2 separate regions of the Homo sapiens genome follow, and region 2 is linked to region 1. The links come from fine-mapping of genetic effects on gene expression. Tissue or cell type: tibial nerve. Region 1 holds a variant in brackets; the other region holds the start of a gene. All regions are shown on one strand. Distances are between the middles of the regions. Region 1 holds the start of MIR3182 (microRNA 3182). Region 2 holds the start of CDH13 (cadherin 13).

What was found. PIP is the estimated chance that this variant, and not a neighbour inherited with it, causes the effect.
Region 2: it holds the start of CDH13, and the variant in region 1 is fine-mapped to the expression of CDH13 in tibial nerve (GTEx, PIP 0.98).

What each region holds. Positions count from the first base shown.
Region 1 is chr16:83,500,642-83,509,311 of GRCh38, forward strand. All of the region lies in intron 7 of CDH13 (cadherin 13), which reads left to right. It overlaps MIR3182 (microRNA 3182), which reads left to right and starts at 7,705; the gene lies at 7,705-7,767. The variant T/G (reference allele first, on the strand shown) is at 4,501.
Region 2 is chr16:82,622,503-82,631,172 of GRCh38, forward strand. It overlaps CDH13 (cadherin 13), which reads left to right and starts at 4,467. Exons shown (of 14, transcript NM_001257.5): 1 at 4,467-4,635. The coding sequence starts at 4,591. RefSeq lists an enhancer at 6,552-7,751.

The DNA of each region.
Region 1 (8,670 bases):
GGCTTACCACAACCTCAGACTCCTGGATTCAAGCAATTCTCGCACCTCAGCCTCCTGAGTAGCTGGGATTACAGGAAAGGCACCCACCATCTTGCCCGGCTAATTTTTGTTTTATTTTTGTGGAGACGGGGTTTCACCATGTTGGCCAGGCTGGTCTCAAACTCCTGACCTCAGGCGATCCACCCGCCTCGGCCTCCCAAAGTATTGGGATTGCAGGCATAAGCCACCACAACCGGCCTAGAGACTGGTTTCTATATGAGCCAGTTTATTTGTTGACCAAACAGAGGGAGTTGTGCCAGGAATCATGGCCTCCGTTAATGTTTTTAAGATTGCAGGGGAAGCATTCCAAATGTTTTCAAAGGTGTATTAAGGTAAGTCTTGTCAAAACATTCCCACTTGAAATAATAAGCATTCTTATTTCTTTAAGTAACAGAGACATAGCAATGGCTTTCCTGGCTAAACGTGATCATCACAGACACACTGACCAGCTGTTTATCTTTGCTTCCACAAATTCCAACAGGCAACTTAATAGACATTTTGTGGTTATATGTTTCTAAGACAGCCATGGGAAATGAATTTATTTCTACCTTTGTGAAGAACAGCTATAGAAATGACCATTGAAATTCAGTGAATGGCATTTCTGCTTATGGGCCTTAAAACTGGGAACCAAAATTAAATTCTTTTAGGTATTTTCTCTCCCGTGTCTTCTAAATTGTTGTGTGGGCTGATTTTTCTCCATGAAAGACTCTCAGAGTCCTAAATTCAGGTTTTCTGTCTCCTTGGGCTCTAGCATTCTGGAATAAGCAAGAGTCAAGAGATTCTCCATTCTTATTTCCTCTGCATGTTAGAATATCTAATAGGTGTGAGACAGTTTATGTTGTGCTCAGCATTGGACAGCCACCATGTAAACAATTACGGCGTTTTTTCATCCAGGCATTACATTAGGTCCATAACACTCACAGGAGCTCTGTAAGGCTGAAATTGCCACATCCATTCTACTAGGAGGGTTATGGAGTTCCCAAGGGCTGACCTGCCTTTCCTGAGTCACCCACTGGAGAGCCAGGGCATTGGATTTGACCTCATAGCCGCTGCTCTATCCACTCCCTTGGGCTATTAAAGAAAAGCACGGGACATATTGATGGAAAAAATCTGACAGATGTCTCAAGGACAACTTTATCTTTTATCAGACTCATTTCAGGGATTTCTGTATTCATTGCTCCTGGACTTTTCACATATTTGGGGAGCTTGATTGAGTTTCCCTCAGCTCTTCCATTAGAAAGCCCATGTGGTACAGTGGCTCAGAGCTTGGGCTTAGGAATTCACAAATGTGAATCTGTGAATCTGAGCTCTGCATCTTATTACTTGTGTGGCCTTGGGCAAGTCACCTCACCTACCTGAGCCTAGGTTTCTTTGGCTGTAAAATGGAACTCATAGCACGGCCTGTGTGGAAGACAGAATAATGGCTCCTCCCCTTCAAAGAAGTCCTCATCCTAATTCCCAGAACTTGTAAATATGTTACCTTACAGGGCAAATGGGACTTTGTAGAAGTGATTAAGTCAAATATATTGAGATTGGAAGATTATTCTGAATTATCCAGATGGGCCTGATATAATCACAGGGTCTTAATAAGGGGGAGGTGGGAATGGCTGGGTTGGAGATTTAAAGATGCTCTAGTGCTGGCTTTGAAGATGGAGCAAGGGCCCACCATGCAAGGGCTGTGGACAGAGCTTCTGGCATCTAAAACAAAAAAGGAAAAAAAAAGGCAAGGAGAGAAATTCAGAAGGATTGCAGCTCTGCCCACACCTTGATTTTAGCCCACTGAGACCCACTTTGGACTCCTGTCCTGAAGTGTAAGAGAATAAAGTCACATGGTTAAGTCACTAAGGACATGGCAGTTTGTTACAGCAGCAATAGGAAATGGATGTAACCTTTTTTATATGGTTTGTGGGCTTGAAAGAGATGACGTGTTAAATACAGTAGCTTTTGACCTTGAAAGAGACGATGTGTGAAATACATTAGTTTTGGGGGCTTGAAAGAGATGACAGGTGAAGTACATTAACTCTTGGGCATGAAATACATTAGCTTCATGGCCGTTAGCATTGGCCATGAAGAGCTCTTGACCAATAGTAGCTGGTGTTACCAATAATAAAATAATGGTGAGACTTGAGATGACACAGGAGTGTTCTAACAGAGGCACAGTCCACTTGACCAGATCTTTCTCAGGCATCTCCATCGACAGTGGGGTCTCCCTAGAAGGCTGGGTGGCTGCCATCCCACCCAACCAGCCTGCCTGAGTTGGTAAAAGTGCATGAAAGTGTTCCTCTCAGGGGGTGGCCTTCCATTGGCCCTCACAAGGGCACAGCGGAGCTCGTTGGTTATGCTTCAGTTACATAAATCCAGCCTTACAAAGGCTACACAGAGAGAGGGGCTCCTTGCCTCCTAGATCTGTACCTTGTAGGTGCTCAATACACATTGGTAAGAATGTTCACATCATCAGGTAAGCAAGGGGTATAAAGTGAGGCCTTGAATCGCTCACGTAGATTCAAGTAGTGTTGAGAAACTAAGAAGTGGTGAATTGTACCCTTTTTTCCCCTCCCAAATTAGAACTCCTAAGAAATACAGGACAACTGGAGACCAAACCGTAGGTTTCATTACCTATGAAGCTGATTAGGAAAGCCTTGAGTTTGTACCCAAATAAATTTGCTAATACTTTTACCTAAATTAGAGAGATTCGGATGGGGTGGGATAACAACACGCCACATCTACCTGGGTGGAGCCCATCTCAGGATGCCTCTGCCCAGGAGGAGGGGCAGTGAGAAGGAGGCCGGAAGGGGAAGAGAAACAGGAGAGGGAAAGGAGGAAAGGAGACATAGCTAGGGAGATGCCACTCAGCAATCAGAAACCTCCATTCCTTTTCCTGGGGTGGAGTGGAGGAAAAGGGAAGGGGCAGGGAGGCTCCTAGCCCACAAGCCACTTTTGTGCAATAGGAAAAGATGCTTGACCAGTGACGATGAGCTTTTTTCCAAATGTTTTTTGGCCACAGAAGTGTCTTGAGAAGTTTCTGTTCATATCCTTCGCCTGCTTTTTAATGGGGTTGTTTGTTTTTTTTCTTGTAAATTTGTTTAAGTTCCTTGTAAATTCTAGATATAAGACCTTTGCCAGATGGGTAGATTGCAAAAATTTTCTCCCATTCTATAGGTTGCCTGTTCATTCTGATGATAGTTTCTTTTGCTGTGCAGAAGCTCTTTAGTTTAATTAGATCCCCATAGTCAATTTTGGCTTTTGTTGCAATTGCTTTTGGTGTTTTAGTTGGGGGGTGGGGGGCAAGGGAAGGGACAGCATTAGGACAGATGCCCAATGCATGTGGGGCTTAAAACCTAAAATATGGGTTGATGGGTGCAGCAAACCACCATGGCACATGTATACCTATGTAACAAACCTGCACAGTCTGCATATGTATCCCAGAAGTTAAGGTAAAATTTAAAAAAAGGAAATAAAAGATGCCCGTTCCTCTGAATGGACATAGCCCATGCCAAGGGTAAGGCTTGGTGAGTGGAACAGGCTGGATTTTAATCCTCAGGTTGCTGCACCCTTGGTGAAGCACAGGGCACTAGAGAAGAGTGTTCACAACCTCCAGCCCCTCCACAAAGAAGCCTGATTCTGGAAAGACAGAGGTTCCAACCTCACCCTTACTTCTCTTCTGAAGATCTGCTGTGCATGAAGCATTTTGGAGGTATTTCTTCAGCTCAGAACACAGCAACTTTCCTATGAAAGAGAGCACAAAGGGTTAATGCCACCAGAAGACACTCAGCCTGTCCAGTGTCGCTACCACTGGGACGGGCAATGGGAGGCATCTGAGGCTTTGCTGACAACTTCTTCTGCTGTGAGGGTGGAAAGCAGGCCAGATCTTTATGACCTGGACTCCACGTTTTGGGATTCTAGCAAGATGGGACCCACTCCGGGTGCTGTGCCCATTCTCAGTGCCAGTGGGGCTGATATGGGGTCATGGCAGGTAGCGGGAGATAACAGCCTCATCCTCAACACTAGACATCCAGACAGAGTGGCTCAGGCCCTGTAAGCAACTGGTGTTAGGGCAGATAATGAGATTTTCTGGTGTCTGCTTGGTGACAAGAGTAGTGGCTTCAAGGAATTTTTTTAAAAAATAACATTTGTTTATAGTTGTGTTTTTTAAAGTAGAAAATATATTCATACGAGCAAGTAATTAGTGTCCTGCCAGGTAAGTCTCATGGTGACATGTCAACGTAATTATTTTTTAAAGTCTGCCTCAAATAAAGCATCAAAATTTCCTGCTTTAAATCTCCTTTCTCTGTAAAAATGGTTAAGAGGAGTGAAAAGAGAGGATGGGAGGGGTCTGAGAGCATTGATGCCTCATCATAGTCAGCCAGCTGTGGCACCACCTCTGTCTTTGCCTGTCACTCTCATACAAAGGATGTGCATAGGAAATGTGATCCTACCCATCCTCAAATTCTAGATTTGGAC[T/G]TGAATTTGGTGCTCTTATTTCCACATTAAGTTAAAATCTAGCCTCCAGATCCCCAGGCTTCCCCTCCCATTGTACCCAGAAGAAACAAGAATTGTTTCTCAGTTCTAACTGTCATAATGCCTAGCGGGCGTTAGCCTACAACGAAGGATAATTCAATCTATCCTCACCTTAGTGTACGCTGGACAACACTAGGACTCAGAAGTGCTTTGCTCTTGATCTTGAAAGGCCAGTGGAAATCCATGCAGATTCCTCCCCCAGGACCCTCCCAGCCAGCCTGATAATGAATTCATGGGAAACAGCCTACATGTGAGCACCAAAGGGAACACATTTAGTAAACTCTGCCAAAGGAGCACAGTTCTTGTAAAGCTGATGAGGTTTGTGATTAATCCTTTTTTTTTTTTTTTTTTTTTTTTTTTTGAGAAGGAGTTTTTGCTCTTGTTGCCCAGGCTGGAGTGCAATGGTGGAATCTCGGCTCGCCACAATCTCCACCTCCCAGGTTCAAGCGATTCTCCTGCCTCAGCCTCCGGAGTAGCTGGGATTACAGGCATGCGCCTCCACGCCCGGCTAATTTTTTATTTTTAGTAGAGACGGTGTTTCTCCATGTTGGTTAGGCTGGTCTTGAACTCCTGACCTCAGGTGATCCACCTGCCTTGGCCTCCCAAAATGCCTAACCCAGTTTAAAGAGATCCAGGAAGCAGATTGTGAGCTGCAGATATGATGTGATTATTAAAAGCAGCCTCCATTGCCAACATTGCAAACGCATCAGCATGTTCCTTCCTTCAACATTCCATAACGTGGTGGTGGTATTCCCACCTTACCCCGGGAGAAGCTGAGAGTCACAGGGAGTATTTACTTTCCAAGTTCACACATTCAGGGAATGGGTAGAAGTGGAATTCACACCCAGGTCAGTGTAAGACCAAAGAGGCTGTCAGAATGGTTTGCTGTTCCACTCATGGCAAACAGGATTTGAAGTTGTTCCAGTCCAAGGGAGACCATCAGGCCATGCAGGAATAAAAAGGCCAAGGGGAGGAAAGAAGATGCTGTCTTCATTAAGGCCTGAAGGAAAAGGCTGGTCAGAGTGAAGAGTATAGACAAGCTCCTCTGTATCCTCTCAAAGATTTGGAGCCACTGATCTCTCTGGGGGTTGGGGAATGGGGCAGTTCCTGGGAAAGGGACTTATTGGTGGGAATCCAGTTCTGCTATGAATGCTCCTGACTCCTGCACTCAAATCCCAACAGATGAAAGGGAGGAGAGACTGACAGATGCAGTGCCTTCCTTTATGTAACCTCCTTGATCCAAACTACAGTCTGACCCATGCTTTCTGGCTTTATATTGTACCACTACGTTCCTAACTCACCCTCGTTCCAATGGCATCAGCATTTTCTCTTCCCTCAAAGATAATGCACTTCTGACTTTTGCATATTATGGTAGCCAGCCCCCAGGAGGGCTCCCAGTGATTCTCACCTCATGGTACCCATGCTCCTGCGTGGTCCCCTCCCACATCGAATAGGAATGACTTGTGTAGCCAAATAGGACATGGCAGAAATGACTTTGTGTGAATTCTGAGCCTTGTTTATTCTTGTCCTTTCTTGCTACAGGCAAAGCCAAATGCCGTGTTGTAGGGAAGCTCAAGTAGCTTCATGGAGAAATCCACATGGCAAGGAACTGAGGCCACCTACTAATAGCCAGCATCAATTCTTTAGCCGTATGTGTGAGCCACCTTGGAAGTAGACCTTCTAGCCCCCATCAAGCTTTTAGATAACTGTAGCCTCACCAACATCCTGACTGAACTACACAGCTGAGCAGCTTCCATATCTCCAAGCCACAAACACTGTGTGCAATCATAAATGTTTTTAGTTGCTTTAAAGCACTAAGTTTGGGGTAATTTTATTCAGCATTAGATAACTAATACACATAGTCTGTTTCACCAGCTAAAATTGCTGCTCATTTCTCTGTTACCCCCCAAACCTGGTGTGAGCAGCCCCTCCTCTGTGGACTTTTTCTGGTCTTCTTTGCATGACTCAATCCCTCTTTCTTCATTTTCTCACACAGATTGTTTAGCATTCTATTAATGCCACTGTCACAAGGAAAAGCAATATTTTTATTACAGTCTCTCTCCTCTGTCGATTCTAGGCTTCTTGAGAAAGTTTGTAATGTATGCATTCTTCAAAGAGGTATTGTTATTAATAGAGGCTCAGAAGATGGCTGAATGAATGAAGAGTGTGTGTTAGAACCTGGGGAAATTTAAACCAAATACATTTAAAGCCAGTGACATTTTCAAAGCATATTTGGCTAGAAAGACTAAGTTCTTTAAAGTAGTTTAGAAGCAGTATTAATGGTACACAGTCTTTGTCCCATTCTTAACAGTACAATAATGATAATTGGTTGCTACTCTGGAAACAAATTAAAGAGCCCAGGAAACGTTTCCAAAGGTGACTGGAATGCTTAACTGAGCTAGACTGTTAATATCTAATGCTAGCCTTCCTGTGGGCATAGCACCCTGAATTGCCTGATCTCATCTAATGGCACATGCTCAGACATCCTTGGTTTTAAATAAAAATTGTCTTATCACTTAGTTTAAAAATGTTTTGCTTAGTAAAAAATTTATGAGGGCAGGTGCGGTGGCTCATGCTTGTAATCCCAGCACTCTGGAAGGCCGAGGCAGGCAGATCATGGGCTCAGGAGTTCGATGCCAGCCTGGCCAACATAGTAAAACCCGTCTCTACTAAAGATACAAAAATTAGCAGTCCGTGGTGGCGGGCGCCTGTAATTCCAGCTACTCAGGAGGCTGAAGCAGGAGAGTCGCTTGAAACCGGGAGGCAGAGGGTGCAGTGAGCCGAGATCGCGCCACTGCACTCCAGCTTGGGCAACAAGAGCAACATTCGGTCGAAAGAAAGAAAGAGAGAAAGAGAAGAAGGAAGGAAGGAAGGAAGGAAGGAAGGAAGGAAGGAAGGAAAGAAGGAAGGAAAAGGAAGGAAGGGAGGAAGGAAAGGGAAGGGGAGGGGAGGGGAGGCGAGGGGAGGGGAGGAGAGGGGAGGAAAGGGAAGGGAAGGGAATACATTTAATAAATGTGGAGTCTGCCAAATCAGGTCGGCAGTTTACTTCTCCTGTCCCCGGTTCAATAACTCACTTACTGGGGTTCTGGAGGATAGCAGTGAGAAGATGGGGTAAAAAATTAGAGAGAAGTTTTGCGTTGCCCCATGGCTGCTTCTGTAGTGTAGTCCGTGCATCCGCCCTTCGATGCTTGGGTTGGATCATAGAGCAGTGACTGTTGATGGCTCACCCAGATCCCCAGGAACCCACCACTCCCATACAGGCTTTCAACCTGTTAATCCCTGCAGCTGCCTGCCTGGACTTTCCTCTGACCATGGGAGTGTGCTCAGTCTTACTGCCCAGGGAACAGCCATCAGCCTTTGAGTGGCAAGAGTTGGTAGATTACCATCCCTTCTTGACCCTTGGAATAGGACAACTTCGAGATATGTTCTCCCGAGTCTCCCAGATGACCCCAGTGAGTTTGAACACCAGTTGTCCACAGAGATAATCTGCCCATTGCCACCTGTGTATTGACTCTTTTACATATTCTGTCTCACTTCTCTTTCTCCCTCACTTGTGCTTCTTAAGATTGTATCCTGAATAAGCTATTTGCACTCAAATAGGCAGAGAGCTAGCTGGATCCATTATTCTCTCTTGTCTTCTATATTTTAGATATCTTGTAACAGGCACAAGGTACCGTGTAGAGCTGAGGTGTAATGACCCAGCTGATCTGTTTGTACTTTCTCATGCTGCTAATGGGTACCTGGAGTTGAGAATTTATGCATAGGTGTGTACATGCCATCACAGCTCTGTGTGCATGAGTGCCTGTGGGGTCTGCATAGCATGCACACATCACAGAAACCCTCTGCCCTCCCTTCTCATTCCTCTATTTGAAGCCAAGTTTCCATAATCCCTCTACTCAACCCCCTTCTTCCCCAGCCCCCAGGGGCTTCCCATACTTAGGGTCACCCTTTCTTACCTCAGAGTTTCAAAGATGTAAGAGCTGATGCCCACCTTGATGGTATTCACAAAGTATAGCAGGGAGGCGGCCATGGAAATGACTCTTTACAGCAGGATGATATGTGGAACATGCCATGGCCAGGGAAGTAACTTTGTCTCAAGGGGATCAGGAAGAT
Region 2 (8,670 bases), 880 kb before region 1:
AGTCTTCTAAGCACCTGCCGTGCTCCAGACCCTGTTCTGAGCACGCAGCAGTAAAAATACAGAAATGAGCTTACATTCCAGAGGAAGAGACAGACAACAAGCCAACAGATGTAATCACTCATTAATTATTGCTACAAAACAAATTACCTCAAAATATAAAGCAATTGTTTATTTTCAGGTCACATACCTGCTGATCAGCTGAGCTGGGCAAATTTGGCTGGGCAAGCATCTGTGGGCCCATGAGGGGCTCATATTTCCTCCTAGGACCGGCGGGATAGCCCACAAATGCTCTTTTCAAGGCATCAGTAGGAGCTTTTGCGAGAGTAAGCTAAAACACAGAGGGTCTCTTGGGACCTGAGCTTATAACTGGTACCCCATCCCTTCTGCTTCATTTCATTTGTCACAGAAGTTGCATGGCTAAACCCAAGGCCAAGGGGCAAAGGGCACAGATGCAGGTTGGAGTGAAGGATTGAGATGACAACGCAAGCAACAATGCGTAGCAGAAGGTCAAGTAACATAGGGGGCCAGGAAGAAACACGAAGCAGTGTTTGTGGCTTAAGAGTGATCAGGAATGCTACTTTTGGTCAGCATTCTGGTAGCCAGGGAGACTTGTTGTAGGACGGTGCATTGTCCTAATCTTGGGTGTTTTTAGCAGGTGTTCCCATTGTAGGGAGTGAGACATTAGCATGAAGGTATGTTGCAGTGCTGTGTGATACAGGCTTCCCTGCATGCTGTCCAAGTGGGTCTCTGTTATCCAGGTCCCCAGACACGCCTAATCACTGGGTTGTTGCATAAGGGCTCCTAGCTGGATTAATCCCGCTCTATACAAATGCCTCATCATAGCAGCACATTGAAAGCATAACAAAATTTGAATACATTATCTCTGCCGGACTATATGCCAGTCACTCCCTCCCCCCAGCACACACACACCCATGTGCTTATATGCATACACACAGGAACATGCACGCACTCACACAGCCACATCCACCCACTGTGGAATGCCTTCATCAACATCAGCCAAGGACAGGAAACAAACTCAACCCTTGGCACCCACAGGAGGCAGCTACTGGCTGTTGGATTATTCCCTCCGTGCCAAAGCTAGGCTGATGCGTCTGGAAAAGGGGTGTGAACCTCGAATGTGTCTAAAGGCAGACACAGCTTCTTGAGGAGCCCACAGATGCTACAGCAGCTGGGGCTTGGTCGGGGGATGATACGGGGTAGGCGGTGGAGTGGGGATACGTAGGGCTCAACTTTAGTATTTATTTGCCACATCAATCAATTAATCAGCCAAAAAACCCTTATTAGGGAACTGAATAAAAAGCAAAGCAAAACGAAGAATGGATTTCTTCTTCAGAAGCCTTTTATCATTGGAATGAAATAATTTTTCTTCTGTCTTTGTTGGACAAAATATGATCTCTTGTTCTTTGTTGAAGTGCACGTTCTCTGAAAGTCGAGAGGAATAGATGATAGAGGGGAAGAGAAACATCAATATTTACAACAGTCCTGGGAGTGTTATCATGTTATCATTCGCATTTTATTGATGACATACTGAGTCTTAGGGTACCAAACTGACTTGCCTCATATATGTGGAATCTGAAGATCTCAGTTCAGGTCTAATCTTTCTGACAAATCTTTTTCCACCTTAGTAGGCTTGGCATGTTTTGAACCTCGTGGGATTACAGAAGTGAGCCTCAATGCCTAGGGAGACTCCAGAAGACAACTCCTCTCATTCCTTAAAAGCCAATCTGTGGGGATTGAGGTGAGGAAGGAGTGAAGACTGGCCCTTTGGGCACACCCACCTGGAATCAGGCAAGGTTTACTGGAGCCACTCTGCCTGCCAGCAGAACAGCCCAGGAAAAAAGCCTGGGACCTTTGCAAATGCCTGAGCAGGACTTTGCAGGGGACAGAGTCAGCAGGATTTTCACCAAACGACATCCATCTTAATTGGTAGCATCAGACTCATGAGGTCTTCTATGGCCTGGGCATCACAGACTCTCATTACTGGTCGTACTGCCAATGGCCTCCTTTTATATATAGTTGATGAATTTGAGGACAAACCAGAGAATTGCCCTTGGCCAAACCAAGCTGTCTCACCCAAGATTTTTCCCCTCCTTGGGGAAATACTGGGGCAAAAAGCACGTCCAGGGAAACCAATCTGCCTGACACTGGCAATTAAATGCTCCAGGCTTGAAGGGACATGGCACTTTTGCACATGGCTCATTGGCTAGATGTACACACACTGCCCCACCCCAGCAACAAGGGGGCCAGTAAATGCAATCCCACCATGATCCCAAAAGGGGAAAAATTGGAAATATTTGGTCATCAGCACTAAGGACAAGGGAATGGGGAGACCACAGAAGGCCAGCAGAACTGTAAAACTGACAGCACCGAACTGTCCTTAGAACACAGCCTTGAAAACTCCCTCTTCTGAGGGACTGCTTCCCTTAACTGAGCTGCTGCAGATGGAAACCTAGCTAGATCCTCATCTTCTGCAGTCTAGTCCCTCACTGTGGTTTATCACCTCCCAAGCTGTCCTCTGCTCTCTTTCCCTATCTTTGTGTTGCTAAGCCATGGACTCAGTTTAGCTGGCCCTGAATTACAAGATGGCACCTTCCCTGGAGTGGAGAAAAGTCCGGATATTTCAGGATGCCTTGATTTGAAGCCTGTTTGACTCCAAAGTTCTCTGGTTTACTCCCACCTGTGGGAAACGTGAGGCTAGATCTCCACACACATGGATTCCAAAGTGTCATGATCTGTGACGTCATCTGTCGGACCGTATTGATCAGAGGCTCAGGGACAGATGACCCTATTTAGGCAAGGAAATGAGTGGGTGAAGCAGCAAGATTCACCTTTCCCAGTTTCATCTGGGGGTTGTTTTGCCAACATTGCCATCTGTTGGGCCAGTGCTGGCTACAGCAGCCAAGCTTCAGACATCACTGCATCTTTATCAATGACCTTGGGACCACAGGAGGTGACCTTCTGACCAAACAGCAGCCAATGAAGGAATCTTAAAAGGCACATCACTTTATATTTATTCAGTGGTTATGTCATCACTTAATCCTCACCACAACCTTGTGAGTTCAGTAGAATTTGTGTTTTCATTTTATCTGTGAACAAATGGAGGCAGAGAGTTTGAGTAATTTACAAGTAAGTGGCAGATCCGGGGGCTGTGCCTAGACAATGTGGCTCCAGACTCCTTGCCCCTCCCTGCCTTCTGCTGCATCTTGATTGAGTCTAGCCATCTATTTCTTTAACACACACTAATTGCTGTCTCCATGTTCCAGGCCCTGTGCCAGATGCTAGAAATACATCCCCATCCACTGGATCTTGGCATGGTCCATTGCTCAGTGTCCTGCTATGTTACGTGTTACATAATGCATTTATTCCGGTATTTAGCCCATGGAAAATAATGCTGAAAGACATTGTATGCATGTTTCTACAACAAAACTATGTAACTTATGTTTCTTTTATTGCTTTGGCTATCAGGAAGCTCTTATCCAAATCAGAGCAAATACATTAGAATTTGGGCTTGTCATTTCAGTTTGCTGAACTTTTCCTTCTGGCCCAGATTTTCTATTTTGGTTCATAAATTCTATTGCACAAATGTCCTTTATTGTAAAACACCTTAAATTCTTTCTAAGGGAAGGCTGCATGGAAATGATACAGTAAGGTCTTCCCTGCATTTTCTTAGATTCCTATTAGGGAAGGCAGACCTAGATGTCCCTCTTACCCTCAGTCCCAAAGCCCCCCATTTATAAAATCCCTTAAGCAGTGACTACTGCTGTTCTGAGTACCTGGAGGTAGTTCAGAGCTTCTGAAAGGTAACATCCATATACAAAAAGAAGTTCCTTCCGATCCAGATCCCAGCTTTGGTGCCAGATGCACATTTGAGGAGTAGGTGGCTAGTCAGACTCTCACCTGAGCAGTTAATAAAATCTATTGCCCCTTAATGGAATTTTTTCTGCAAGCTCGAATTGATCTGTCATCTTTGTGATTTGTGAGATGGCAGGGAAGCACCAAACACCATCATGACTTGGGCCACAGTGGGGGGAAAAAAGGAAAAAAGAAAAAAAAAATCCACTGCCAAGCCTTGCCAGGCGTAGAAAGGGCTGGAACTGCTGGGGCCATTTTATCTGATTTATTGGAAATAGAGTGGATCTTATTAACATTTTAATAAAGAGAATCTTTTTGCACTAGGCTGGAAGTGGCCGCCAGTCCCCCGTGCAATTCCATTCTCTGGAAAAGTGGAATCAGCTGGCATTGCCCAGCGTGATTTGTGAGGCTGAGCCCCAACAGTCCAAAGAAGCAAATGGGATGCCACCTCCGCGGGGCTCGCTCCTCGCGAGGTGCTCACCCCGTATCTGCCATGCAAAACGAGGGAGCGTTAGGAAGGAATCCGTCTTGTAAAGCCATTGGTCCTGGTCATCAGCCTCTACCCAATGCTTTCGTGATGCTGCTGCTGATCTATTTGGGAAGTTGGCTGGCTGGCGAGGCAGAGCCTCTCCTCAAAGCCTGGCTCCCACGGAAAATATGCTCAGTGCAGCCGCGTGCATGAATGAAAACGCCGCCGGGCGCTTCTAGTCGGACAAAATGCAGCCGAGAACTCCGCTCGTTCTGTGCGTTCTCCTGTCCCAGGTAGGGAAGAGGGGCTGCCGGGCGCGCTCTGCGCCCCGTTTCTGCATTCGGATCGCCCGGCACGGGCAGGGTGAGGGGGCTTTCGGGGGGTCGGGGCCTCCGGTCGCGGCGGCGAAGACAGATCGGGGCTCGGTAGGGAGGTCATTCCGAGCCCAGAGATCCTAGGCACCCCCCACACACAGGCTCCCACTCTGGCGTGCGTGTGTGTGTGTGTGTGTGTGTGTGTGTGTGTGTGTGTGTGTGTACGTTCGTTAACGGGAGGAGGAGAGAGCTCCCAGTCCTTTTTTGCTAGCAGGGGCGACATTCTCGCCCACATCAAGTGGGGTAACTTTGGTTCCCTCCTCCGGAGGCTCGGTGCATTGGAGAAAGACTCAGTTAGAGGCGACTCCAACGAGCCGCGGTTTTCCCCAGCCCAACGCCCAGCGGCCGAAGCGCTGCTCGGGTCCGGATTGCGGGATGCGGGGCTGGAGAGGCCGAGCAGGCACCACCGACTTCCCAGGGCGCCCGGGCCCCCTGGTACAGCCCGGCTGCCCGCTGGAAGGCGCCTCGGGGCAGCAGAGAGCCTCAGCCCGGCTGCTGCTGTCGCTCAAAGGCGCCGGCGCCGGCCGCACCCGCATCGGGGTCCTTTTGCTCCCAGACCCCGGGCCCGAAAGGGCCGGAGCGTGTCCCCCGCCAGGGCGCAGGCCCCAGCCCCCCGCACCCCTATTGTCCAGCCAGCTGGAGCTCCGGCCAGATCCCGGGCTGCCGCCTCTGCTGCCTTCCCTGAGCGGGAGCGGAGCGCAGAGAAAAGTTCAAGCCTTGCCCACCCGGGCTGCAGCTGCTTGTTAACCCTCAGAGCGCCACGGCGCGAGGGAAGGGCACGCCAACCAGGAGAGGGGGCGAGGGAGATGCGGTCCGCCTGCAGTCACCTCTGCACCTCAGAGATTTCGGGAAGTTTGAGTGCAGGAAAGCAGCGCTCCGAGGCCAGGCCTGGGGTGCTGGCCGCTGCGGGGGGCACGCCCTGCGCTGCTCAGGGGCCTGTGGTTTCGGAGAGCACCCCGATCCAGTCCCCCATCGCCTCTCTGGCAGGCGTTGGGACTTGGAGTGAGCTGGCAGCCTGCAAGTGGGTGGATAAGAGCCAGGGCAGGGCAGGGCCGGGCAGAGTAAGGAGGGAAAGAGACAGGGAGTGCCTCAGGGTGCTAGGAATGAGTGTTGAGTTCCTGGCCGGGGTAGAGGCTCAGGTGAGAGTTTGCGGGTGAAAGGCAGGGGAAGGGAGTTGGGTTCCCAGGTAGGGACTGTCTGGGATGGGGAGACTGGTGCAGACTTCTAAGGGAGACCACTGTTAGAGCAATGTTGGGTTTAGACTTTGGAAATGGGCTAACATCTCAGAAATGCAGTGATGGGTGATAGTACCAGGGGAGATTCAAGTGCCCGGCTGCTGAGCCCGCTCCCAAGCTCCTGACTTCTTTCTTGGATATACAGTCCCGATTAAGGACTGCCCAGTTATAGCTCCTTTTCTACCAGGCTTTTCTGGTTGATTATCTTGGGGTCCCTACAGCCTTGAGTCTTGCCATGGATCCCAAGCCTGGCTGTGAACCAGTTTTCCAGATGTCCTGTACCCTAGAGACCCCAAGGCTGTATGTGTGTACATATACCCCAATTTAGCAAGGCGGTTTGGAGCATGCCTCAGACAGAAAGGATTCAGACAGATCCTTCCTGCCATCTGCTAGTGGTACCAACCCGGGCAAGTTGTTTAACCTCTTTGAGCTTCCAAGTTCTCCATTGTAAAATAATCTGCTGCCTTCCTAGGACTGCTGAGTGGATAGGATTGCATTCAACAGGATGTCCTATGCAATGCATGCCAGTCTGGGAGCTGTCGGTGTCTGAGAGCACTTACCATTGCCTTGTCCAGGACTTCACAGTCCTCTTTCTTTCTTGGCAGGTTTCAACCTCAGTTCATATTCCAGGGCTTGCCCAAAGTTATGCCTCCTTTAAAGCAAGACAGACCACGTGACAGGGCCCCAGGATCGATTTTTATGCACTAAGGGCTCTGCGCACGGTTCTTTTTGCAAATGAACTGGTGTGTCTCCTCACCCAGGGCCAGGCTGGCACAGGTGGGTTCTGAAGGCTCACTCTATTTATTTAGATGAAGGAAGCAGAGATTTTGCTGTGAATTGAAATGATTGCCCTGAGAGGCTTATTTCTATTTTCAATTGTTATGCATATCAGAGCAAATGTCCACATTAGGATAGTAATTGATATCCTGGTAGCAATAGTACCTCACAGAGAAATCATTTTGATGCAATCCAGTTAACCAGCAAGAAGTTCACGTGCAGAACTCTGTGTGCCATAGAAAAAAGTGGGGAAAGTCTTCGAGGCCTTGAGTCGACGAGCAAAAACACAACTTTCCTGAGGCAGAGAGAAAACAGAAGGGAAAAACAATGTAATAAAACAAATTAGTCACTCGGCCCTGGTGGTGTTCAGGCAAGCCTGTATGTTTTTTTCCACCACAGTTGTAAAGCATCGGGTCTGGCTTTGGAAGCCATCAATCTCTGTAAGCTTATTGGCTTGGTTGTTGTTTTAGGCATTTTGGTAGGAGGTGAGGAATTCTAAGCAACAATGACTGGAAGCTGGCACCGTTGAACAGTCACCTCTCCTATCCCCTGGGGTGTTTTGGGAAAGTCTGTCCCAGAAGTGGCTTCTGGAATTTGCCTATGATAAGTAATGACTGTGAAACAAATCAAGAAAGAAATGAGCAAGAAATTCCATGGTAAATGTGATTCCCCTCCCTATTTGGGTAGCACTTACAACTAACCAAAAGTTCTAACAATGAGTGAGTAATCCCCCAAGAATTAGGAATTTAGGGAGGGGTTCAGGCTTGGAGGACAGTCGCTTGGGAGTGACTGAAAATGTTCCATGGAATTCTGAGATTTCGCTATAAAGTGGGGAGTTCTCTCTAGGGGTCAGAGTCTTGATTTTCAGGATTTTCAATGAGAATCAGTGTCTTATAGTGCTCCTGCAAATTTGTGTGTTATGTTTTAAGAGCAGTGTTTATTTGCAGAACTTTTTGGATGAGGAAAAGGACACAGGGTTGAAGAGGGTGCTGCCCCCTCCCCCCCTAGGGTCAATACATGACAGCCTGTAAGATTTCCAGAGCACTAGGGAAATGGAATATGTAGTGAAAGGAGTCAGTGATAGAGTTCACCTGTCTGAATATTTTTTTTTAGCAAGTCCCAAAACAGGTTTAATAAACTGCAAAGCTGAGTATGTAATCTGGAATTTGTGTAATTCCACAGTCTATACTAAAAGCCCCAACAGTCATCTTAGCTGATCGCTCCTACTCTGCCTCCCTCCCTTCTCCCCTTTTCTATCTTTAGCCCTTGGGTTTTCCGTTAAGTAAAATCTGTTTACTTCCAGAAGTATCCTCTATGTGTTATAGTGAAATTGCCCAACAAACCAACATACTCAATAACTGCATTATCTAAAAGCATCAGCACTTGGATGTGTAAACTGAGCCTCAATCTGAAGTTCAATGTTTAGGTTAAAGTGTAGCTAGGTTCTTGAAAACATCCTTATTTCCTTCCAAAAATACAATTGCTTGGGGAGTCTAGTTAATTTATATTTAGTGGAATGTAGGAAAAGGACAAACTATGGATTTAATTTACACCTGAATGACAGTCATATCATCTACGTAGCCAACAGTGTTTCTGTGTGCGCGTCTGAGTGAGTGTGTACATCTCTGCATTTTGATCTTGTAATACCTGTTGAAAAATTTCTCCAGAAGAGGGCTCCATCCACAGCATTACAAAATTCTGAATCTACAGCTCATTTTAAAGAACTTCAATGCAGCAACTCCATCAAAACAAAACTATTCTCCTTATTCCACATTAATTGCCACAATCACCCCCAAATGAGAAATCCTGCCATTTTTCACTGTATTTATTTCTGTGTCTCTCTCTTTCTTGCTTTCCTTCTTTTGCTCTCTTGCTTTCTCGCTAGCTTTCTTCTTGCTTTCTTTCTTTTCCCCTATTGTAGTTGGTTCTGTTCTAATTCATT